Linked DNA regions of Homo sapiens: regions 1 and 3 are each linked to region 2. Evidence: fine-mapped expression QTL. A gene starts in region 2. Each other region holds a variant in brackets. All regions are shown on one strand. Distances are from middle to middle.

The links.
Region 1: its variant is fine-mapped to the expression of VSIR in whole blood (TOPMed, PIP 0.93).
Region 3: its variant is fine-mapped to the expression of VSIR in whole blood (TOPMed, PIP above 0.99).

What each region holds. Positions count from the first base shown.
Region 1 is chr10:71,729,152-71,737,151 of GRCh38, forward strand. It overlaps CDH23 (cadherin related 23), which reads left to right. Exons shown (of 70, transcript NM_022124.6): 31 at 1,318-1,453; 32 at 2,836-3,224; 33 at 5,089-5,190; 34 at 5,505-5,507. It also overlaps a transcript of C10orf105 not described here. Among named protein-coding and RNA genes, the nearest start is that of C10orf105, 13 kb to the left of the region's middle. RefSeq lists a silencer at 339-530. The variant G/A (reference allele first, on the strand shown) is at 4,617.
Region 2 is chr10:71,769,071-71,777,070 of GRCh38, forward strand. It overlaps VSIR (V-set immunoregulatory receptor), which reads right to left and starts at 4,450. Exons shown (of 7, transcript NM_022153.2): 1 at 4,288-4,450. The coding sequence starts at 4,369. The region is part of intron 38 of CDH23 (cadherin related 23); the gene reads left to right. RefSeq lists silencers at 4,250-4,329, 4,350-4,679.
Region 3 is chr10:71,743,843-71,751,842 of GRCh38, forward strand. All of the region lies in intron 38 of CDH23 (cadherin related 23), which reads left to right. VSIR (V-set immunoregulatory receptor) reads right to left here. Exons shown (of 7, transcript NM_022153.2): 6 at 7,826-8,000; 7 at 3,714-7,448. The coding sequence ends at 7,411. Among named protein-coding and RNA genes, the nearest start is that of VSIR, 26 kb to the right of the region's middle. RefSeq lists enhancers at 4,156-4,365, 4,751-4,800, 5,001-5,130. The variant C/G (reference allele first, on the strand shown) is at 3,609.

The sequences.
Region 1 (8,000 bases), 40 kb before region 2:
AACTGTATTACGTTCATGATGTACAGTGCACACATTCATAAAGAGAACTTAGTGCTGGTAAGCGGTGAGGAAAATGGTGCGTAATTGCACAATTCAGAAACAGCCACTGCCTTGGATGGGGGCCTCAGAAGCAAACCCTGAGACAAGGATTGGTGTGAAAGTAATGTGTAAGAAGCGCCCACAGGAAAAGGTGGAACAGGGTGCAACCAGCAAGGAAAAACAGACAGCAAAGTGTCATGGAGGGAGCTAGGCCTCCGTCCCCCAGGGAGCCCTAAAGCGTCCCCTCACTGCCCCAAACAGGGCCAGGGAAGCTGGAGTCTTTGCTCTCCACGCCCATCAATCATTGGCTCAGGGCTGCCCTAGGGGACGGAAGTTCCCAGGCATTTCTGCTCACTGGGCTGGTTTCCAACAGCCCGGGTGTGGGTGCAGTGGGGTGGGGTTGGTCTTCCCCAAAGAGCCTTAGGGGCTGGGAGCTGGCCGTGAGAAGGTGCACAAGTAAAGAGTACTGAGCACTGACATTCTCTACTACAACTGCCATTGTATTTTCACCTCTATTTTCCAAGATATATTTTAATATTTGATTGGGATCACTTTGAATTTTTTCAAGAACTTTTGCAGGCCCTGGCTCATTTTGTCTTCATAACAACCTTAGGAGTGGCATGGAGTGTGAACTATTTTATTATTATTAATTTTTTTTTTTTGAGATGGAGTCTCGCTCTGTTGCCCAGGCTGGAGTGCAGTGGCGCGATCTTGGTTCACTGCAACCTCTGCCTCCCGGGTTCACACCATTCTCCTCCCTCAGCCTCCTGAGTAGCTGGGACTACAGGCGCCCGCCACCACGCCCGGCTAATTTTTTGTATTTTTAGTAGAGATGGGGTTTCACCGTGTTAGCCAGGATGGTCTCGATCTTCTGACCTCGTGATCTGCCCACCTCGGCCTCCCAAAGTGCTGCTGGGATTACAGGCGTGAGCCACCGCGCCCGGCCGAATTATTATCTTAATATTACCACTTTATAGCTGGGAAACTGGGGGCCCCAAAGAGTCACTAATTAGTCAGATGTTCCACAGCATTAGTCAAAAAGCCAAGAGCAAGATGAAGTTCATTCCGAAACAAGTAATGTTTGAGCACCTGCCACGCGCCAGGTGCTGTGCAAGGTGGTGGTCACAGTGACCCACCAGACAGGCCTGGGGTCCTAGAGGGAGCTCACAGCAGGCCCAGGAAAGCAGTGACCACACAAGGCGGCCACAGTGGGCCAAGCCCTGGGCTTCCCAGCCTCCACCCCACCCTGACCTTGCACCCCTGGCCCGGCTCCCACAGGTGATTGTGTACGTGGAGGACATCAACGATGAGGCCCCCGTGTTCACACAGCAGCAGTACAGCCGTCTGGGGCTTCGAGAGACCGCAGGCATTGGAACGTCAGTCATCGTGGTCCAAGCCACAGACCGAGACTCTGGTGAGGCTGGCAGGAGGAAGCCGGGGATCCCATTGCTCAGAGCAAACCTCCCCAGCTCACCCAGCCCCTCCTTCGAAACGGTCATCCCTGATGCTTCAGGCTCCCCATTTAGCCATGTCTAGGCCAGGGAGGGGCTGCTGGGATGGTCTTGATCACTTCCCACCAGTGGCCCCAGCCTGAGAGGGTTGGAATCAGGGAGAGTTGTCCCAACCACTGGGTGGACAGAGGGGAGGCCACAAGCTTGAGAAGTCCAGCTCCGTCATCCCAGGACCCAGCAGCTCCCACTAGCCTTTAGAGAGGGGCTGGGCAGAGCTGGGAGGGGTAAAGAGGACCGGTCAGAAAGCTGGCTGCGGCCTGGCCTGCTCCTCCAGCCCCTCCACGCCTTCCAGGACCAGCTCAGGGCCTAGCACACGCAGACCCCCTGACCCTGTACAAGGGGCAGTACCCTTCCTGTGCCGCAGGGCAGTAGCCTGAAGGCAGCCTGAACCTTGCTGAGGGCCCAAGCCCCAGAGGCGGCCACAGCCCGCAGTGCAAAATGAAGGGGAAGCATGCCGGGTCTCTGTGGCCCTCCGTGCGGCCTGGGCTGTCTGGCCTGTACCCCAGTCAGGGATACAGCTGAAAAGGAGCATTTTCTGGAGACCCACTGTCCCCCAGAGAGGCTCCCTGAGCTGCTCATCCTTCATGTCAGCTACTCTGGTGGCTCCCAACTCCTCTCTCAGCATCCTCAGATTATCTGTGGCATGCATGGGATGGGGTGGAGGGAGGAATGGCTGCAAATTCTCAGGCGGAATCTCAGGCATGTTAGGAGAGTTTAGGGCACATACGCGGCTGTGGCCCCTTGAGGTCTGTGAACTTCAGCTTAGGAATCCCAGCTCTAGCTCCTGATTGAATGGTTTGTTTCAAGGCACAGGAATTTGGGGCGTAGGGAGTGGGGAGGATGGGGGAAGGTGTCCCTGACACTGAAGCCCTTCTGTCGAAGGGACCAAACCAAGGCTTGGCCATCTGTGAGGATGCGTTCTAGATCAAAGCCTCCACTACAAGAGATCCTTCATTTCCCCCAATGCTTGTATGTCCAGATATCAAAGGGAGGTACATGAGCTTGAATTTTGAGGCTCCAGGAGCAGACCCAACTCTTTCTGTCCTATCTCTGGTGCCAAGGCCAAGCCCCAGAGGAAGGCTCAACAGTGCATGCTGGACCTTGCCATCCACATTGACCTTAACACATCCTCTGCTGCATCTCTGAGGATGATCCTGCCGGCAGAGGTGGGGCAGCCCATGCTGGGTGGGCCACCCAGGGGGTATGGGTGTGGCAGCTTGAGAAGCCACAGCGCAGCCCCACTCAGTTCTATCTGGGACTGCACAGCCTCTGTGTCCTCCTACAGGGGATGGTGGCCTGGTGAACTACCGCATCCTGTCGGGCGCAGAGGGGAAGTTTGAGATTGACGAGAGCACAGGGCTTATCATCACCGTGAATTACCTGGACTACGAGACCAAGACCAGCTACATGATGAATGTGTCGGCCACTGACCAGGCCCCGCCCTTCAACCAGGGCTTCTGCAGCGTCTACATCACTCTGCTCAACGAGCTGGACGAGGCCGTGCAGTTCTCCAATGCCTCATACGAGGCTGCCATCCTGGAGAATCTGGCACTGGGTACTGAGATTGTGCGGGTCCAGGCCTACTCCATCGACAACCTCAACCAAATCACGTACCGCTTCAACGCCTACACCAGCACCCAGGCCAAAGCCCTCTTCAAGATAGACGCCATCACGGTGAGGGGCTGGGGGCAGGGAGCACCATTTCTTCCAATCTAACCAACATTGGTTGAGCTCCTTCTGTGTGCACAGCACTCTCCTCTTTGTCATAAAATGTCCTTGAGATGGCCAAGTGTGGTGTTAGGTACCTGTAGTCCCAGCTGCTTGAGAGGCTGGGGCAGGAAGATTGCTTCAGCTCAGGAGTTTGGAGGCTGCAGTGAGCTGCGTTTGCACCACTGCACTCCAGCCCGGGCAACAGAGTGAGACCTTGTCTCTTACAAAGAAACAAAAAAAAGTCCCCGAGATCAATATCCCTGTAACACATCCATTTTCATATGTAGGAGTAAGATAAAGTTTATACCTATGCAGGCTGGTATCCTTCTGTTTTTCCTTCTGTTTTCACACCCATCACAGATCCTTCACCTCTGGTCATCGAAGTGTGTGTGGGGTTTTCCCCCATTATCGGCAACCAATTATCTGACTCTCTTGACACCAGCTGGGAATCCTATAGTTTGATTTAATTCTGAACATTTCTACCTGGAGTTAGCGTCAGATCCCACAGGCTCACAGCTCAGTCCCTCCCACACACCACGCAATTCTCCAGTAGACACCATAGTGTCAGATCCCACAGGTTGAGGGCTCAGTCTCACAAAACTGCCTCCACTTCAGCTGCCAATCACAACCTCTAGGTTGTTTGACCCATGCTTCTGACCAACTGGCTAAATCAGAGTTCCCACAACCCCCTCCACAAGTTCGATGAATTTGCTAGAGCAGCTTGCAGAACTCAGGGAAACACTTTACTTACTATTACCAAAGTATTATGAAGGATAGTCTAAAGGATACCAACAAACAGCTGAATGAAGAGACACACAGAGCAAGGCATGGGAGAAGGGGCCCAGAGCTTCGGTGCCCTCCTCGGACATGCCACCCTCCAGGCACCCCTACATGTTCAGCAGACTGCAAGCTCTCTGTAGTTCAGGGATGTCTATGGAGGCTTCATCACATAGGTACGATCAATTATTAACTGAATCTCCAGCCTCTGTCCTCTTCCTGGAAAGTAAAGGGTGTAGAGGCAGGGCTGAACATTTCAAGCTGTTTATCCTGGCTTGGTCTTTCTGGTGATCAGCCCCAACCGAGGACCCCACCAAGAGTTGCCTCATTAGAACAAAAGACTCCTATCACCTAGGAAATGCCAGGGGATTAAGAGCTTTGTGCCAGGAACCAGGGACAGAGACCAAATGCATATTTCTTATATCACAATGTCACAGAAAGCTCTGCAAGTCATATTTCCCTTTTCACCTTGGCTGTTAGGAAGCTCAGACATAAATGCTGGGCTTCATTGCAATAGTTATTCTTAGCTAGTTGTCTGGTACACCAGTCTCTTATCTACTGCCAGGCTCTTACTCCTTC[G/A]TCTTTGCTTTAGTGTATCTTTTATCAGAATTCCTTCTTTGAAAGTAGGCAAGGTGTGAATCACTACAACGTGACAGGCCTTGTCCTAGAGGATACTGGGAACACAAATGGACACAAAGATGAACAAGACCCTTCTCAGTCCTCAAAGAGTTCTCAGGCTAGAAGTGGAAATGGAACTAATCCAGGATGCAAATCAGAGCGCCACAAGAAGATGTGCAGAGAACTACAACAGAGGGGTAGTGGAGCCCCTCAGGGCCCAGCAGTCATACCTGGCTGGGGAAGCAGGAAGGCTTCATGGAAGAGGTGGCTTCCCAGTGGAATGTGAGAGAGAAGAAGGAATTCAACAGACAGAGTGTCCTGGGGAAGTTATGCCGGACAGAGGAAGTGACATGGAGGTGGAAAAGTGGGCAGAATGACCAGGGTTAACAAGGGTGCGATGTTGTCACTCACCCATCTGGCCCCTTCCCTGCAGGGTGTGATCACAGTCCAGGGCCTGGTGGACCGTGAGAAGGGCGACTTCTATACCTTGACAGTGGTGGCAGATGACGGCGGCCCCAAGGTGGACTCCACCGTGGTGAGTGGGACCAGGGTGAGAGTCCCTCAGGTGCGGCCCATCGCTGGCCATGACACTTCCTAACCCATGTCCTCGCCAGCCACCCAATGTATGGGCCAGGCAGCGGGCGAGGGTCTTGATAGCCTGAGGCTTCGCCATGTCCAGCCATGCCACACCTTCCCAGCAGGTTGGGCTAGGATGAGACCTCAGGCAGGTGGAGGGTGGCACCTCCAGAGACACTGCCGGGAGTGGGGTCTGGAAGAGCCACAGACGGCTAACCATTTGCATCTTTGCCTTTTCTCTCACTCCCCTCCTGCTGCTGCCTCTGCCTACAGAAGGTGAGTAGCCTGTGGCTGGAGCTTCCCCTGTGCTGTTGGCTGTGGCCAGTGCTGGCCGGGCTCTGCCTGGCCCTGGACCTTCCCACCTCTCCCAGAGAGAAGGCACGTGGACAGGCCTGCAGCAGGCCCCCTCCCAGTGCCTCCACTCTCACACCTGAGTTCAGGCCCCTCTGGGGCATGTCCCCTGCCTCCAACTCTGTCCTCTGTGTCTTGCCTAGCCCCGGTAGGGTCTTGGGTGGGGAGAGTACTAGCAAAGGAGTCACTGGAAGACCACTGAGGGCTCATCCCAGCTCCACTCCTCGATGGCTGTGTGACACAGGCAAGCTGCTTAACGTCTCTGTGCTTCCCTTCCTCGGGTCTAAAACGAGGGTCATGCCAGCATCCCTGCCATCCTCAGAGGATGAGATGGAAGCAGCAAGAGATTGCAGGCAGAAAGCCCTTTGTAAGCCAGTCCTGGAAGCAGATGTGACTGCAGTGGGGCTCTGTCCTGATGCCTCAGCTGCTGCATCCATAAAGGGGACCCCCTCCCTCTCCTGGGGGTTGGTGCAAGTGTGTGGGGTGGGATGCACATTGTGGGGCCTGGGAGCGCTTAGGAAGGGGACCATGGGCACAGGTTGTTTCTCCCTCAGGACAGCCTCTAAGTAAAGGCAGAGAAGACCATGTGCTGGGCCCCTGGGGGAGGGGGGCCCACTGAGGTCAGAAGAGCCAGACAACGTTCCTAGAAGAGGCGGCCCGGCCTGAAGGGAGAGGCAGGCAGGGGAGCTCATGCTGGGGTTGCAATGGGAGTGGGTCCAGGGCCAGCTACCTGAGAGAGGTCCATGGGATGGCATCCTGTGGTGATCCCAGGACACTCAGCCATCAATCTGGCCTGGACACTGGCCAGTCACATCAGCTACCATCTAGAGACCACCTGGGGCATCAGGCTCCTCATCAGCCTTGGTTACAGCCACATTGCCACGCCCTGCTGAGTCCCTGTCACATTAACCTAAAAAAGCTAGAAGCCAACTCAGTGTCCAAGCCAAGAGCCAAACACAATTTCTTGGGGTTCTTGGCCCCAAGGCTCCCTGGAGGTGCCCAGTTCTAGCGGCACTGGTTGTGGCTGGGCCATACCTAAAGGCCCCCTCCATCCGTGGGGCCAGCCTGGGGGTGAGTGAGGCTGTGATGGGCAAGAAGTCTCCACAGCTCCCCTCAGCTATGCTCCCCAAGGGCAGCCGGTGAGCAGAGCGCTCGGGCAGTGGGTGCCGAGCCACCTGCGTCCTGCCACTCCCAGCCAAGGGGCAGACACTCAGGGGTAAAGTGGGACCCTCTTACTGAGCCTCACCCTCTTCATTCATACAATGGGCCCACCTGGCCCTCACACAGCAGGTGTTGCGAGAAGGCTGGGAGGAGAGGCCAGTGGGAGCCCAAGGGTGGCAGGGATGGAAAGGAGGTCCCCCTGCGTGGACTGCCAGCCACTTCCTCAGCACGGCTGTTGAGGGCTTCGGAGCACACACTTCTGCCTGTGCCCCTGTATTTCCACAGTGCTTTGCCCTCTTCCGGTTAGCAGGGCCCACCCCCTTTTGTTCTGCCCTGGCTTCCTCTGAGAGGCTCCCAGGGGCCGCTGCCCCAGATCCACCAGCCCCGGTAGCCCCAAACACTGTTTGAGGTGCTAGGGTGGAGGCAGAGGAAGGGGCCCTTTAAAGGTGGAAACATTTCCTCTGCTAGGCCGGAACCCAAACCACAGCTCACCTCCACCTGGCTCCTCCCTGTCCCCAGCAGCCCTGGCCGGCCCCAGAAGGAGTGGTCAGGCAGACCAGAAGGGGCAGGCTGGGTAGGGCATGGCTCTGCTATAAGAGCTCTTGAGTAAGTTCAGGCCTTCAGGGGGTAGGGGAGGGCAATGTGGATTGTGAGGCCCTGGGTGAAGACACAGACACCCATCTCATTCCCATAGGCCTGGGAACCTGTCCTCCTTCCTCACCCACTGAGGCCAACCCCCTTCCACTGGGAAGTCCAGCAGCCCCCCTCACCCCTGCCTTGCAGCCTCACCAAGATCAGAGCAGTAGTCATTGTGGGAACACCTGCTGTGTCCCAGGCACTAGGCTGGGTTCAGGTTACAGCAAGAAACCAAAATTAGACATATCCCTTGCCTTCCTAAGTGTACGATACAGTGAGGGAAAGACATTGATCAAATGATCACAGCAGTAAATGTATGCCCTGAGAGAAAGCCTATAATAAGGTGTCAGGGAACTAGAAGAGGGCTTCCCTGAGGAAGGGACTCAAGCTGAGAGCGTCAGAATGCATGAGAGTTAACCCAGCCTAAAAAGGAAGAGCATTTCGGGCAGAGGGAACGGCAAGCACAAAAGCCCTGTGGTGTGAGGAAACACGGTGAGTCTAAATGAGGCCTTAGCTAGAGTGAGGGGGTTTGGGAGGGATCCGATCACAAGGACCCTTGTCTGTTTTCACCCTGAGAACAGTGTGATAGGTATTGTTTTTCCCATTTCAAATGGGCGGACT
Region 2 (8,000 bases):
CAGCTTGCCTGGCCACGTCTACCACATAGTTTTACTTTTGGTTTTACATTAAATAACATTGAATCATATATAGAAGAGGTTATTCCCTTTACAATTATTTCAGTCCTGATTACATCAAAGAGAAAGTCTCAGTTTGATGCTAATATGTCTCTAAAACATTTGCTAATCTCCTTTTCTTTTTAAATTTTATTTTATTTTAATTTTTTGCAAGGGAAAGCAGCAGTTTTCAGACTCCGAGCCTTCCCAGGCTAAAGTTTCCAACTAGAATTCAATACCCTTATATGGTTTTCCTGTTACGTTCTTTTATGGTTTTGTTCTATTTATGACAAGTGATACTGGCTTTCCACTAATGACAGCGATAAAAAGTTTCCTTTTAAAGATCTACATACTCAAATAAAAGAATGAGTAGATTTAAAGAAAAAAATAAGTAAATATTATGAAAGGCAGACACTGCAGAGATCACAAAGGTGATAAGCAAATGACTGAAGCTAGGGAAACACCATCATGGAATTAACCTTCAGAGGAGGGTGGTCAGCCTCACTGAGACCACGTCACCCAACCTGTCCATTGCACAGACAAAGGGGAAGTGTGTGTTTGTGTTCCCATGATGAGTGAACAGCAGAGGCAGGGTTTGACCCCAGGTCCCCATGGGAAATAAGATCCTACGCAGAAAGGCTAAAGGAATGGGCTTGCTTGGCTTGGTAAGTAGCAGAGCAACCTCATTATTGGATTACTGATGAGAAAGATGGTGGCCACTGTCTTTGTCTTTGGTGATGGCCAGCCAAAGTGAATGGACCGAATGTAAAAAGATCAGATGTAAGAAAGATCCACCAAGATAAGCAAACCCAGGGCCAGGCTTGCCTTCAAGTTGCAATGTCCCCATCTCCTGACAACTTTAAGAAGAGAACCTGTAGGCACCTCCATGGGCATTTCAGACTGTGAGGGCCTACAGGGGCTCACAGGTAGCTGGACGCAGCCCATGCACCCTTCATACTCCAGGCTTTGGAGAATCTAGTCCCAGTGAAGCTCACCAATGCCTTCCCAGGCCCTGGGCACTCCATTAGGCCCTGTAGAGAGCAAGCAGCTTAGATAGAAAGCCAATGGCATGTGGCCTGCAGAAGCCAAGAAATACCATAATATTACACAGTATTCACGAGGAGCCGGGTGCTGTGTTAAGTGTTCGTTCATTGGCTCTTCACAGTTGCCCTCCAAGGGAGGTGGTATCATCTTCCCACTTTAGAGGGAGGGGAACTTGCTCAGGGAGACTGAATAACTTGTCCAATATCACAGAGCAGTAAATGGCCATCTTGGGATTTAAGCCTAGGTCTGAGTGACTCACAAAGCCCAAGAGTTAAGCAAGGGGCTGTACGGAAGCCCTGGCATGCATGTCCCTGGCTTTGCCATATACAGGCATGCTGGGACTGCAGCTAAGGGCATCTGTGGGGCCACTGGAAGCCACAGTGCTGATCCCTGGCCCACCCTCCCCTGGGAGACCAGACTGACCCTGGGTCATTGGTTGGCTAAAGCCTGGGGCCTCAAGTTTGGTATGTGGGGCTCGCTCACTGCCAACGGGTTCTCCTTGAGGATCCCTTTCTTCCTTTCATCTGCTCAGGCCTAACACCCCATACACTGTGTGCGGATAGGGAGGTGACCCCTTTAGCGTCTCAGCAGCACACTCCTGCCTGGACCACCCTCTCCCAGGAAGGTCAGACCCCAGCGGAACCTTTGCCCTGCTTGGGTGGAAGCATGAACAACTAGTACAGCTCAGCAAGGGACTCCCAGTATTGCTGGCCCTTGGGTGTCCCTGGCATTGGGTAGATGACCCCTCATGCCAGGGACTGGCCTCAAGGCTGTTCCTCTCTACTCCAGAGCCTCTGGGCAGTGGGTTGTGGATTTCCTAAGAGCTGACCATTGCTGCGTCAGAGGCTTGCAGCACTGGGTTACTCAACAAGGCCCTGCAGCCTGGTTTGCTATGAAGGAGAAGATGGGGTCTCTCGTCCCTAGCCCCAGTGCACTTAAATGTGCTAGTCCCAGAGGTTGGGAGTCCTGAGTCAGCCTGTGAGGACAGGGCAAGGACAGTAACTGCCTCGGGTCCTGGGAATGTCTGTGGGGAAGAAGAGGCTCTGCTACCCTTGAGATCTGCTGGGTCCTGGTCCCTAAGTGTACCTCTCCACCCATCTCACCCTGAGTCAGGCCCAGGAAAGGGGTATCTTTGGTGTTTCCTGGGCTTCTGAACACCACATTCATCACTACCATTCTCCTCAGTGCTGGCCCAACCCCAAGAGCTGGAGAACAGGCTGGCCCCGGCCACTCTATCTCACTTTCCCTGGCATAAAGGCTTTGACCTTGGGCAACATACCCAGGGCAACCCAGCACCTCGGCAGGCTGGTGATCAATCTTCTCAACTTACAGATCCTGCTGACCATGCCTGCAACCAGGCCTCCCATCTGCTATCTCCCTCAGTGCACACTGTCCTAGGGAGTTGGGTGAATATCTATTATAGTGTGTCCATGTCACAGTTCAGAATCCTGAGGTCCCAGAGCAATTCAAATGCTTCTGGCTCCTTTCAGTGGAAAGCTGCAGCCAGCCTAAATCATCTCCCTGTGCTGGGCCCAGGAAGAGATGACCCTTTAGTATACCATGTTGTTTGAGTAGCCAAGACCTCTGGGAGTAAAGGCCCCTGGCCATATAAGCAATATAGGGGAAGGCGTCCTGAGCTCCTCTTGGGGCCTCTCTGCTACTGGGTGCTCTGCAAGCTGGGTCCCTGTGCCCTGGATCTCTAGAAATGTTTCTCAAATTGGGGCTGCTGAACAGAGGGCAGCCCAGCCAAGTGAGGGCAGGAAGTGGGCAAGAAAGCAGGAAGGGTCTCACAGGGCCACCAGGGAGGGCAGTGCAGGGCAGGTGGCCCATGACAGGTGGGATGCTGGCTTGCCTGCCTGCCACCATCCTCTGTTCCTTCTGGAAGCCATGCCCTGCCATGAGCCATGGCCTTGGTGCTGAGACTGTCCATTCCACCTCCCATTCTCCTCCTCCCTCTGACTGTCACCTTGAGAAGCATCCACCCTGGGGCTTAGGGCAGCTGTGTCTGTGACATGTGGAGCCCTCCTCCTCCTCAGAGGCCCAGGCCAGCCTCCAAGTGCTGAGATAGCCAGCTGCCTGTGGGCACCCAGGTTGCTAAGGTATCTTCCAGGTTCAGCCTCCTCCTCTCCCTCTTATCCTATCACCCTCTCCTTCTATTCCATCCTGCCCACTGGGTCCCTGTGCCAAGCCCTCCACCTCCCTCCTGCCTCCCTCCGAGTCCCTGCATGACTCATACTTTCCCTGGGCCCTCCCTATAAAGTTTGGTTCCACAGGCTCTTTGAAGAGATCCAGCCTCTTCAGCTCTGGGCAGGCAAGAACTAGGCAACCAGGCCATGGGTACCAGGGCCTCTGCCCCCAGCCCGGGAGCCCCTGTGTTGGGGCCAGGATACTATCTGAACATGCTGACAGTCTGGACTTTGGAAGGGGAAAATGGTGCTTCCCTGTGTGGGCTTCTGTGTTTGAGCTGAGGAAACTGAGGCCAGAGAGATGCCGTAATTTATCCAGGGACCCAGAAGGGGCTCATAGCTGAGCTGAAGAGTGTCCCACATCCTCCCCAGTACTCCACACTGGTCCCTGAGTGGCAGCCTTGCTAGGATGGCAGGAATCAGCTGACCACTTATTCCTGGGCCATCAGACCCTTAGAATAGGGACCAGGTGGGCAGTGCTGCCTCTGTGTCTGAAAGTGGACCCACCGTGACCAGTGCCCAGTGCCCACCAAGGCTCAGCCAGGGGTTTCACCAGGGCATGGGGCACTGGCTGAGCATACCACGCCCTCTGTGTCCTCTGCAACACTAGAGCCCTGAGACTAGAGGGGCAGAAAGATGCCAGCTGTCAAAAGCCAGTGATATCCACCAGAACACACTGACCGCCCCCACCCTGTGCCTCTCCTTCTTTGCAGAAGCTACCTGTGCCCTGGGTTCTCTGGGCAGGGAAGGGCTGGACAGGCAGCCCTCAGGGGACAGCCCTGCCTGCCACTTGGGCAGCTGTCAGAGCATGCAGATGTGCCCGATGCCTAGCTGGGGCACTTGGCACAGTTGCCACTGCACCCTGCCTAGGGGTCCCAGCAGCCTCTGGGCGGTGGGTGGAGTGGGGTGCACGGTCACACAGGCTGAGAGGGCCCCCAGGACGCCCCCATCCCACAGTTCCCACTCCAGTCTGCTGTCTTCTCCCAGCTTTTTCCCAGCGCCCCGCCTCCCCCGACCTTACCTAGGGACGCAGCCAGGAAGAGAGCGAAGAGCAGGGATCCCCAGCGCCAGCTGCCGGCCTCCAGGGCCGTGGGGACGCCCATGTCGCCGTCGGACGCGCAGAGGAACTTCTGGTGCCGGGGAGCGGGCGGGACGCGGCCGGCGCGGGGAAGCCTCCCGCGACTGAGTGCGAGCGAGTGAGCGCTGCGGGCGGCCCCAGCGCCGTGCTCCAGGCACCCGCCCCCTTCGCGCAGCGCCCCCGGGGGGCCGTGTGGGGGAACTGCCTCTCCGAGGGCCGCGTGGGAGGGGCTTCCCGGAGGCCGGCCCCGTGGGTGGGGAGCCAGCGTGCGTCCCAGCGAGTCAGCTCCACTTGATCGGCAGTTTAAAGCCCGTTCTACCGTCCCCCAGTCCTTTTGGAGAGAAATTATTATTGCTGCGCAGCCTAAGAAGTAGATCTACCTCTAACAGCGTGATAGACGTTACCATGGCTTGCATCTGCCCTCAGCCACCAGCCTTTGAGTGATCTGGGGACAGAGACTTGTACCCTACATCCTCCAGCCAGACCAGGGCTTGGTATGTGGTAGGCACTCCCAGCTGTGGAATGAGTGAGTAAATGAGTGAATGAATGAAATCTGACATTGTGAAGAGCTAGGCAAGCTGGAGCCAGTTTAACTGTAGATTCAGAGCCTGAGGCACCCTGAGTGCATGCGCGCGCGCACACACACACACACACACACACACACACACACACACAGAACAGGTGCAGGACTACACGCCAAGATCAGCACATCCCTACCCCGGGACACACACAGATATGCAGGCAACACCTGTTGGCGTGCCCCACAGCACATCCTGCAAGCTCCCCTCCGGCAGAGGCCTCAGCTGTCCGCCTGGCTGTGCACCCGCCCTCCCTCCCTGGTGCCTGGATATCTGCAGGACACTCTGATGCACCCTAACTTCTAGTGCCTCTGCTCTTGCACCCACACCCAGCACTGCTGGCACCACTGGAATGTCTCTCCCCTCCTAATTCTTCTCATCCCTCAGGGCTCAGCTCAAGTCCTCCCACTTCACGAAATGTCCTGACCCTTCCTTTTTCCCGGCAAATCCTTACTGTCCACACCCCCTTCAGCTACCACCTCCAGCCTGAGATAACCAGCAGTTGGTTCTTCTTCCGGCTGTTCTGCCCTCCAGAGCGAAACTACAAACCTCTCTCTGATGTTTCTGAGACCCTAGCACAAAGCTGGGCGTGGAGAAGGTTTTACTGCACTTTTATCTGAATGGACAAACCAATGAGTGAGTGAGTGATTGTGTGATGGAGGAGCAGAGGTGATCGTGGCCAGGACCAGGGATCACAGGAGTGGAAGAGCACAGCCATTTTACTCAGTTTACCCCAGTCTAGCTGAAGCTTCCAGGGGTTTTTCTGGCACTTTAGGGATCTTGGGTTAATAGGTGACTCCTAGGCTGAGAGGCAGAGGACACTCAGAGTCTGACTGGGTCAGGAACCAGGGTATCAGGACTCAATGGGAGCCAGGAGTCCTGGGGGCCTTGTGGGTGGCCTGATCCAAGTCACGGGCTCTCTGGAGGCCCTTAGCCCTTGCTCTAAGGGCAGGGAAGGCTACAACAGAGGAAGGCTGAGGCATCATGTTATTACTAAGTGAACTTGTGCAGGCCCAGTCCCCCTGGAGCCAGTGAACTCCCCAGGATGGGAGCCCCAGAGGCTGGCAGGACATAACCCAGGTCCTTGGGCATGCTCCTGGCCTTGTGACCCCACCTTGGAAGGCAGCCCAGGGCCCTTCCTGCTGGCATAGCATGAGCTCCCTTCCACCAGGGGAGGTACAAAGCCAACTGAGATCAGGTGGACACCGGGCCCTTCTCACCCTGACATCCTCTGGCAAGTGAGGGGGGTCCCTTAAGGGCAAGATCCTAGAGCACCACCCCATCTCAACCCTTCCTGGACTGGCTTTGCTCAGGACACCCTTGAAACCAGACTCCCTCTTCCCCAGGGCCTAGCAGCCGGGGAGGGCCTGGAATTAGAGAAAGGGGAGCAATTGCCCTGCCAACCCCTTCCCCAGGGGGATAGAGCCTCTGAGCTGGGCCCAGTTCCCTCCCCCCTTTTCACTTCCTTTCTCCCTACCACACTGCCCACCACTGAGCCTCCTGGGGTTGCATCAGGGTGAGACACAGGCATTGCCCAAGGACCATGGTCCAGAAACCTCAAGCACTGTTTCCTCAACACCAGGGCAGGACAGGAAGGGCTCAGCTGAGAGGGCCTTTGGAGCACTGACTTTCTCCTCCCTCCGAGACCAGAGGAAGTCAAACCCACCTTCCCTCCCCAAGCCCAGACCTGGTCTCAGAGCAGGAGGGGCTCCAAGGCCCAACTCTGTTCAAACTCTCCACTCCCAGCCCCTGCAGCCTGCACACTCCATCATGTGTTTGTGCTTGTTTTCATTAAAAATAGTGGTGAAGGCCCCAAATATTCGAATAAAGATGACTGTCAAGGAAAGCCACCATGTCCATCTTGTGGCTCTGCAGGGCCTGGAGGCAGCTGTGAGTACTCTCTACTGGTGAGGGGCCCAGCCTTGAGCCTTCCTGAGTCCCCTTACTTGCCGGCAAGAATACAAGAGCACCACATTGCAGGAAAGGGGCTGAATTCCAGCCTCCCTGTTGGGGAGGGGATGCTGACATTTCCCACATTCCCAAACTCACCTCCCAAACTCCCTGAGCTAGAAACAACTTTAGAAATCAAGCCAGGTCCTTTATTAAACAGACAGAAAAGGTCCAGAGAGGGGATGTGACCTGCCCAAGGCCACGCAGCTCCTTTTCAAGGCTGCCAACCCTATCTGCTTTGGAAACCGTTTCAGCAAACACCCAATGCCCTCCACCCCCAAGATCCAGAGCTGCATATCAGAGGAATCATTGCCTCCTCAGGGGCAGTGACAGCCTTCTTGGGTCCAGATCCCCTGCCCATCTGTCCATTCTTCCAGTGGTAGCTCCAGAGCCAGCCAGTCCCAAGGAAAAAACCATATGCAAATTGCCTACATTGAGTTGTCTGTACCACCTGCTTTCTGTTCTCTGGCCTGGCAATGGCCTAGTCACGTTCTCTCTACCCAGACACCTTTGCAGTGATTAACACCTTATTATTTTATATTAGTCACTCATTATGATTTGTATTAGTTAGGGTCCTGGCAGGAAACAGATGGCACACTCAGAAAGGGTTCAACTGAAGAGAGTTTAATACAGGGACTGTTTAGGAAGGCTGGTAAAGCACCCAGAGACTAGCACCAACCACAGGAAGCCACTACCACTCACATGTCCAAAGGGAAAGAAGAGGAAGTGATGTTCTGGAGCCCAGTGAAAGCTGGTGCTATGAAAGGGGGACCCCTGTCCCCAAGCAGGAGAAACACAGCCATGGGCAGAACCGCAGTGAGGAATGGAGGGAGTGTGGAAGAAACACCCCCGCCTCTTTCTCCCCACTGCTTTCATCTTCAGCCAGGGCCTCCCATTGGCCACACCCAGCAGGAAGCTGGATAGCAAGGGAGCCAGGGTAAGGCAGTTAGTCCACAGGGGACATCTTCCCAGGTGGAGAAAGGCAGGAAGCAGGAGCAAGAACCATTTCTAGTTGATTCTTGAGTGCTGATTGCCGAGTTCTGATTAGCTGAATATTACTTGTGGTCCAATTGACTCAAGCATTGGCAGAGATGGCCGATCACAGGAGAGTATGTTGTAGAAGCTGTT
Region 3 (8,000 bases), 25 kb before region 2:
TGTGGATTTCAGGCTCAGAGGTGTCAGAGCTCATGTTTCTTGGCCTTTCCCTCATGGTGGCAAGATAGCTACTATAACTCTAGGCATCAAGTCAGCATCCAAGGCAGGAAGATGACAAAAAGATGGCAAAGGGCTATGGCAGCTACTTCTGCCCTTTTATCAGGAAAGCAACAGGTTTCCCAGAACCACCCTCCAGAGTGCTGCTTGTGTCTCCTTGGCCAGAAGTGGCTCACGTGGGCACCCTAGCTGCAAGGGAGGTTAGAAAAAATGAGGGACAGGATTATCATGGTCAGCATATTACTTGGGGGCCAGATATATCACTTCCCACACAAAAGCAGGCCTCTGTCAGTGAGGAAGAAGTGGAGAATGGATTTGGGGTGGGCATCTGACAGCATTTGCCACACTGCCCTCCCCAATCCTAATGCAGGCCAGTCAACGCACCACCCCCACTCCCCACCCACACTCCAACCCCCACAGTCCTAGGGTCTCTCAGGGAGACCATCGGTGGAATCCATAACATTCTAAGACCCTGCAGTTTGTAGGCAAAATCAGGCTTCCTTTGGGTCCCCAGAATAAATGGGAATTGAAGAAATGGAAAATCACCCTGGCCACAGTTAATCACCCAGAATGCATGGGCCACTATCCAAGCAATCCTTTAAAATCTTGGGATTGGTCCCCATGGCTAAAAAGAGTTTCCATCTGCTGGCCAAACCCTCTGCAGGGACCCATCCCACCCCTTGGGGAGCATAAGCATTCCCACCTCACATGTCAGCCCCTGACATTCTGGTTCTCACTGAAGCAGGGCTCAGCCCATACCAGCTCCCCGGTGAGAGCAGGAGAAGCTGGGTAGCATCCGCCCTGCTCATCCTGGTCATCACCAGCTCTGCTCCCTGAGGCCCCAGAAAACACCCTCAGGATGATTAGGACCAGGGACCCTGAGGCCATCCATCTCCAGGGGAATATATATGGGGCTTCCTGGGCTGAACCATGATGCTTTCTTCCAGACCGTAATATAAACAGCAACAGGTACCAACTTGAAAGATGTATAGGAAAACAATTTTAAGTCGAAAAGAATCCATCCATCTTCAATTTTTCCCCCTGCTTCTCCAAGTTGGGAAAATATTGCTATCATTTGGTTTTTGCAGGGGACACCTCAGTGAAGAATTGCAGTGACCATAGGGACATAGAGAAACTAGCACTAAACCATATTTATTCATTCATTCACTCATTCACTCATTCACTCATTCATTCATTCAGCCATTGTCCCTGAATGGCCACTATGTGCCAGGCACTGGAGATACCGAAATGAAGAAAATGTGGTCTGTGGCCTGAAGAAATGAAGTTGAGTAAGGGAGGCAATGAAAACACTGGTGTGCAATGGGGCACTGAGAAGGGCTTGGGGAAGGCTTCCTGGAGGAGGTGACACCTGGGCCGAGTCTTGTTGGTCAGTCTTGGTTAGCACAGCCAAGAAAGAAGCATATTCTGGGGTTCAGCCTGCACAAAGGCTGAAGAGCAAGCAATAATCAGGGATGGGTTCTGGGAGCCACAGGTGGTTTAGGCCCGGGGCTGCTTCCAAGGCCAAGGGCAGGACTCTCTATTTCCATATCCTCCCGGGACAGTGTATATGGGACTCGCCATAAGAGCTGCTCCCGCTGCCTTCTCAAGACCCCCCCTCTACTGCCTCCATGCCTGGCCGAGCCAAGGTGGGGATGGGGCAGAGCTAGCAAGCAGGGGTCCTGCAGCCCACAGTGCCTACCAGGGTAGCTTGCCTCCAAGGAGCACTGGACCCTTGAAGATTTGCTTCCACTGACCAGACCCTCAACTTTGGGCAGTAAACCCCTCAGGGTTATGAATATCCCCAAGAGCAGAGCCCTTCTCTGCCTCTGGGCAGATTTCACTGGATGCGTGTATGAGGAAGGAGCATTGTCCCAGCCCCTCCTAGAGCAACCAGAGACCTGAGCAGCATGCAGCCAACCACCCTGAGATTCCAGGAATGGCTGCCACAGTCTAATGGGTGAGACAGCAGCTGCTACCCTGCATAGATCCATCCAGAGAAAGCCAGCAGGCCCACTTGCCATCCTTTTACTCCCACTGCAGTTATCTGCCTGGCTTCAAAATGGCCTTCACTGGCTCAGGACCAACCTTGCTGGAGGACAAGGGCATGAAAGATTCATTCATTTGTTCATCCAACACCAAGTATGTGTTATGTGTGAGGCCTGTAGTACAGGCTAGGACACCAGAGATACATCAGGCACAGGTCTGCCCTCCAGGAGCCTACGGTCTGGCAGGGGAAGGCACATGTACTGGAGAGCTGACACTGTGATGTGGTAGAGTGCTAGGAGCCTGGAAGCCAGGGCAGGTTTTCTGGAGGAAGCATCATTTGCATCCCTGTTTTGAAAGATGTGGCTCCCTAAGCAGGGGGCCTGAGATTTGGCTGCTAAGACCCTCCCCAGAGCCAAGAGAAATTCTCTGAGTCCCTCCAGCTCTACTTTTCTCCCTGAGACCCTCGTCCCCCCAGGTTCCTGAGAGCTGGACATTCCTGCAAACAGCCTAGGCCACCCCCATCCGGCCTCAGCCCATATCACCCGAACTCGGAACAGCTGTGCTGCAAGGGGTATCTGGGCCAGACCCAGGCCCGCCACACAATGGTGTGCCACTGGCCGGGGGAGTCATTGTGGAGCCTCAGCCCCTGCCTAGCTCCAGGCCATGGGAAGACAGGCCAGGCTTGGGGGAGGGGTTTAAGTGGTTGTCAGGGAGGCCCCTGCAAAGGAAGAGCTGGGCCCAGGGAGGAAGGGCGGAAGGTAACTGGGAGGTCAGGAGTTAGCCCAACCTCAGAGGCACTTGGCAGTGGGGTGGAGAGGGAGGGAGGGCCTAACTGTGGCCTCCCTGCCACGTGAATTGCAGCCAACCGATACTACTATTCCAGATAAGAAGCCCTGGCTTCTCAGGCTGGTGAGGACCTGCAGAAGTCACCTATCCAGGCAGAAGGACAGAAATCTCCCACCGCCCCCTTCTGGTATGCAAGTCCCCAGCAGCGGCCCCGTGACGGTCTATGAGCTGGGGACACTGCTCTTGGCAGTACACCTCATGTCTTTAGAGCAGAGGCCCCTTCTGTTTATTAGACTTGGACCCTGCTATTGTGAACTCTGCTTCCCCTGGCTTGAGATCAGAAGGTCCCAGCCTGGCCCTCACCCTCTGTGGCACCAAGAAGGCTGGCCTTCCCTGACCCAGCACAAGTACATCCAGACCCTTCCCTTGGCCTGGCTTCTTGAGGGATGTTCCACAGCTGCCCAGATGCTCCACATACAACTGGCTAAGTTCCTCCAAGAGACCCTGGGGCTCAGCTGCTGAGGGTTTCTCCCTTCCCCATCCCCTAATGCAAGCAAGAGGGGTGCATGGGCCACTGTGCCTATCAGGAGTCCTCTAGCTCCACAGTTGGCAGGCAGAAAAGGGAGTGGCAGGAGCTGATATGGAAGGAGCCTACCCATCAGCAGCAGCGTCTTCTGGACCCAGAAGAAGGCCCAGGCCAGGGCAGGCAGAGCACAGATAGGAACGTTTCTGGTGTGCAGTACAGTGGAGCCCTGGACCTGTGGGCACAAGTTCATCTC[C/G]CAGAGCCCTTGTATGTGCTCTAAGCAAGTCCAAGGTGAAGGCCAAGCCAGGCCCTGGCCCATAATACCAATCCATTCAGTGAGGAGGAAGCAGGAGACCCAGGGTTTAGTCGTAGTTCCACCGTTTACTTGTTTTGACAAGACACAGACCTTTCAGAACCTCTATTGCCCTCTGTGTTAAATGGCAGCAATAAAACCTCCCAGGATTTTCAGGGAAGGGGGTGGATCAAACAAGTTACAACACATGTGAAAGTGTGTTGGAAAGCACCAAGTATTCTAACAGAAAAGGCCAAGAAACAGCATGCATGCTGCCACTTCCCTCTCCCGTGCCCAAGGCAGACATGGCTATCTATCTCGGCACTGTCTCACCAAGCTATATTGATCATTCAGAATCCCTCTCAACACATTCCAGGATAGTTAGGGTGACATAGCCTCCATGGGGTGAAGAGAAGCAGCAATGCAAAGCAGGGAATGCCCAGGGAATGGGCCAGGTGGCCTGTGCCGTCTATGGGCTGGGCCTCATGCTCAGCTGGGCTGTGGCTGGGCTTCAAGAGGCCTTTGTTCCCAGCATCCTGGTTAGCAACCCCAGTTCCTCTTTCGTGCATTGTGGTTCCCTGAGAAAACGTTAACCCAGCCCCCAGCACAGTCAGGCCAGCCCTGGGGAAGGCCTCATTCATGAGGCAGGACCCCAGGGGCCAAGTTGGTGCTCGGTGGTGGCAGGACCCCTGCAGCCCCCTGTCCCACTGCACACTCCCAAGTCCACCCCGCGAGGAGCACCCCCTGAAAAAGGCCATGTATCAGCCCCTCTGCCCTGGGCCACTGCATGTAGTGGGAGCTCTGGTCAGGCAGAAGTCTTTTGAAAAGCAGGTCCTGGGGCTCCTGCACCTCCACCCCAGCGCCCATCGCCACGGACTCCCCCAGGCAGGGCCAGCCTGCCCACCAGCAGTCACCAGTGGCCTCCATGGTGTGTTTTTAGGGAGTGCTGAGCAGTCCCCGCTGTGTCAGCAAAACCCTCCAAATGGTGCTTTCAATTCCATTCCTTCAGCCTCTCCCTGGGAGGGAATAAAGGCAGGAAGTCTCTATTAAACTGTGAATGTCAGGAGATAGGTAAGATGGCCCCTAATTCCTGATTGATCTCCTAACAATGAATTAGTTCTTAAAAGCATGGATTTCCCTCTCAGGGCCTCAGACTGTGCCACGAATCCAGCGCTCCAGGAGCCTCCTGCCCCAGCCCCTAGTGCTCCTCCCGCCCCCTGGAGGCGCCATGTTCTCGCACCCAGCTCTCCCATGCACCCCAGCCCACAGCCACCAGGGCTGGCATCAGAGGCACTACCATCCCGGGCAACTCAGAGGGCGGCTCCAGCAGCCTGCCCCTCCCCAGCAGCAGCAGGGAGGGACGTCCCTAGTGCGTTGTAGGCAGGGCCTGTGGCCATGGATGAAGATGGAACTGGGAGCTCAGAGTAAATTTCGCTGAAAACAGGAAACCACGAAGCCCAGATGCGTTCAGTTGTAAAAGGGTCCAGAGAAGAGAGGGCAGGGCCGCACCAGAGGAAGCTGAGGAGGAAGTGCGGTGGCTGTTCTGCTGCGGGCCGCCTCCCTCTCCACACAGCAGCAGCCAGGCCTGGGGTCTGGCAGCCAAATTCTTAGAAGTTGTCTCTGCCTCAAGGTCAGCAGCTGAGGGCTGGGGCCAGGCCAGCCTCCCCAGAGGGCAGGGCATGCTCTTCCTGAGTTGGGAGAACCGGAATCTGGGCTGTGGGCTTGTCCTTCGACTCCAGGAACAGCAGGTGTCCTGTCCCCACTCCTGCCATGCAGGCCCCCATGAATTGTGAAAAACATACCCTCTTTCCTTCTTTCTTTCTTTTTAAAATTTGTTTTGAGGCAAAGTTTTGCTCCGTCCCCAGGCTGGAGTGTAGTGGCTCGAACACAGCTCACAGCAGCCTTGAACACCTGGGCTTAAGCGGTCCTTCCACCTCAGCCCTGCAAAGTGCTGGGAGGACAGGTGTGTGCCACCATGGCCAGCCAGCACCCTCTTCCTATGGCAGCTGGCATCAAGCATTGTGGTGACCAGAGGGAACAAAAGAAGGGACCCCCCTCTGCCTAGGGACAAGGGAGAAGCCGGGGTTTGGGCATATTCTGGCCACTCGAGGTGTCAGCCCCATCTCCGGGCCTATGTTTACCCTCTCCTCAAAGCCCCTGGCCCAGCCCAGGCAGAGCAGGAGGCCCTCAGTGGACCATTCCTTTGGGCCTAACTGGGGGGCTTAGAAGCAGGGCCATGTGTCCAGGTGGGGTTCCCTGGCTGTAGCCACAGGCCCAGGGCTCACTGCTGCCAGGCAGCCTAGAGGTGCTCCCCTTTTCCATCCCCCCAACCCCCCAAGCAATTGGGCGAACATCTTCCCGCCTAGCCCCAAATCCTGGCTTTCAGCACCCAGGCCCAGCTCAGCAGAGCCAGTGTAGGCTGCTAGGAGACAAATGCCCAGGCTGGACTATGCTCTCCACAGTACCTGGGGCCCCCATCCTGCTAAACGCTACAGGGGGTCTGCCCAGCCCCACCTCACCTGTCCCCATGCTCAGGCACTGCCTTCCCTGTTTTACCCCCAGAGTGTACAGAGATGCCCCCTACTCTCCTCCCCTGCTTTAAAATCCTTCAATCACAATTCCACAGAGGACTCACCTTGCCTATGTGTATAAAAACAAAGCCAGGGCATGCCCACAAGCAGGAGATGGGAACATCACCCGCACCTGGCCGAATGGCTCTGAAGCGAAGACTCCACCAGGCCCAGATTGTATGGAGTGGAAGGTGGGGGTGGGGGAGGAGCAGCAGAGTGCAGATTTAAACTGGCTCTTACAATCCATCTCCAGGGTTTGCACCTGTTTCCCCATGTAGTTTTTAATAGCATCCCGCTTCATACTCAGAAGTGTCCCAGGGTGGACAAGACATTGTGTGGCACCCTTGCAATGGCCCGCGCTGAGCAGTGGGAGTAGGGGATGGGGAGGGCGGGGGGCAGGTGCCCCTCTCCACTCACCTTCCCAGAAGGCCCCACCCACCTCCCTCAGCACCATCTCCAGTGGGTGGGGCAACATCTGTCCTGGCCTCAGATTGCCCAAGACACCATTTGCTCACGGAGGCCACCATGCCCCAATATGTACTTCCCGTTTCGGGACCACCAAGCTCTGGGGACTGGAATGCAGGCAGTGGAAGCCCCAGATTGACTTAACCTGTTGACAGATCTTCAGAGAAACTGCTGGTAGGAGGCAGCTGGGGAAGGTGGCGATGGCCAGTGGGCAGGCAGGCCTGGCCCCAGAGCCACTGTGGTACAAAGAGGAAGTCTGACAGAAGAGCAGCCTCGGGCAAAACGGGGGAGCCAAGGCGGCCACGGGGGAGAAGTCTCTCCACCGTGCCCTGTGTCTGGTGCCTGGGAGGGTGGCCCAGTGTCCATCTTGTCCCACTGATGCTGCCACATCCCAAGGCTCATGTCTCAGAACGAGAGCTGCTGAAGGGCTGGACGTTCTGAGACTTCTTAAGATGTAAGTCATTTGGCATCTGTAGCTGGTGAATTTCAGGTCTCTAGGGGAGAATCTCAGCACCCCAAAATCCTTGGAACAGGGGCTGAGCCGTCCAGCATCCCCATGTAGCATCCAGAGGGGTTGAGGGGCTGGGCTTCTGGGATGTCACAGTATCTGAGCCCAGAGCAGGAGGGAGGGAACCAGGGCCGAGGCCAAGGAGGCCACTCACAGAGCCAGCCCTGGCTCAAATGCACCTGCCCCAGACCCAGCCACAACAGCCCACTGTCCCCCAGCTGGGCTAGATGACCTCAAAGTTTGGAGAGTCAGGGACAGGGTCTGCAAGAAAAGGAGAAGCAAAGTGAACGGGGCCCCTCTGCCCCTCACCCTCAACCCCACCCCGTGAGGCCGTGGAACTCTTCAGGGAGGTGAATGGGGGCCCCTCTGTCCCTCACCCTCAACCCCACCCCGTGAGGCCGTGGAACTCTTCAGGGAGGTGAATGGGGGCCCCTCTGTCCCTCACCCTCAACCCCACCCCGTGAGGCCGTGGAACTCTTCAGGGAGGTGAATGGGGGCCCCTCTGTCCCTCACCCTCAACCCCACCCCGTGAGGCCGTGGAACTCTTCAGGGAGGGCAGGGAGTGAGGCCGATGCCCTGCAGGCCATGAGGTCATGACCTTACAGGTCATCGTGCTGTGAAGGTCAGGAAACACTTACCCAGGGATGGGAAGAAGACGTCTCCGGGGCCTGGAGGAGACAGGGGGGTGCTGGGCTCCGAAAGCAGATGCCGCCCAGACTCAGAAGGCTGCCGCTGGGCCACATAGGACAGGGGGTGCCTGACTTTGGCCTCGGGTATCCCCTGGGCAGGTGGTGAGGCTTCAAAGCCGGGGTT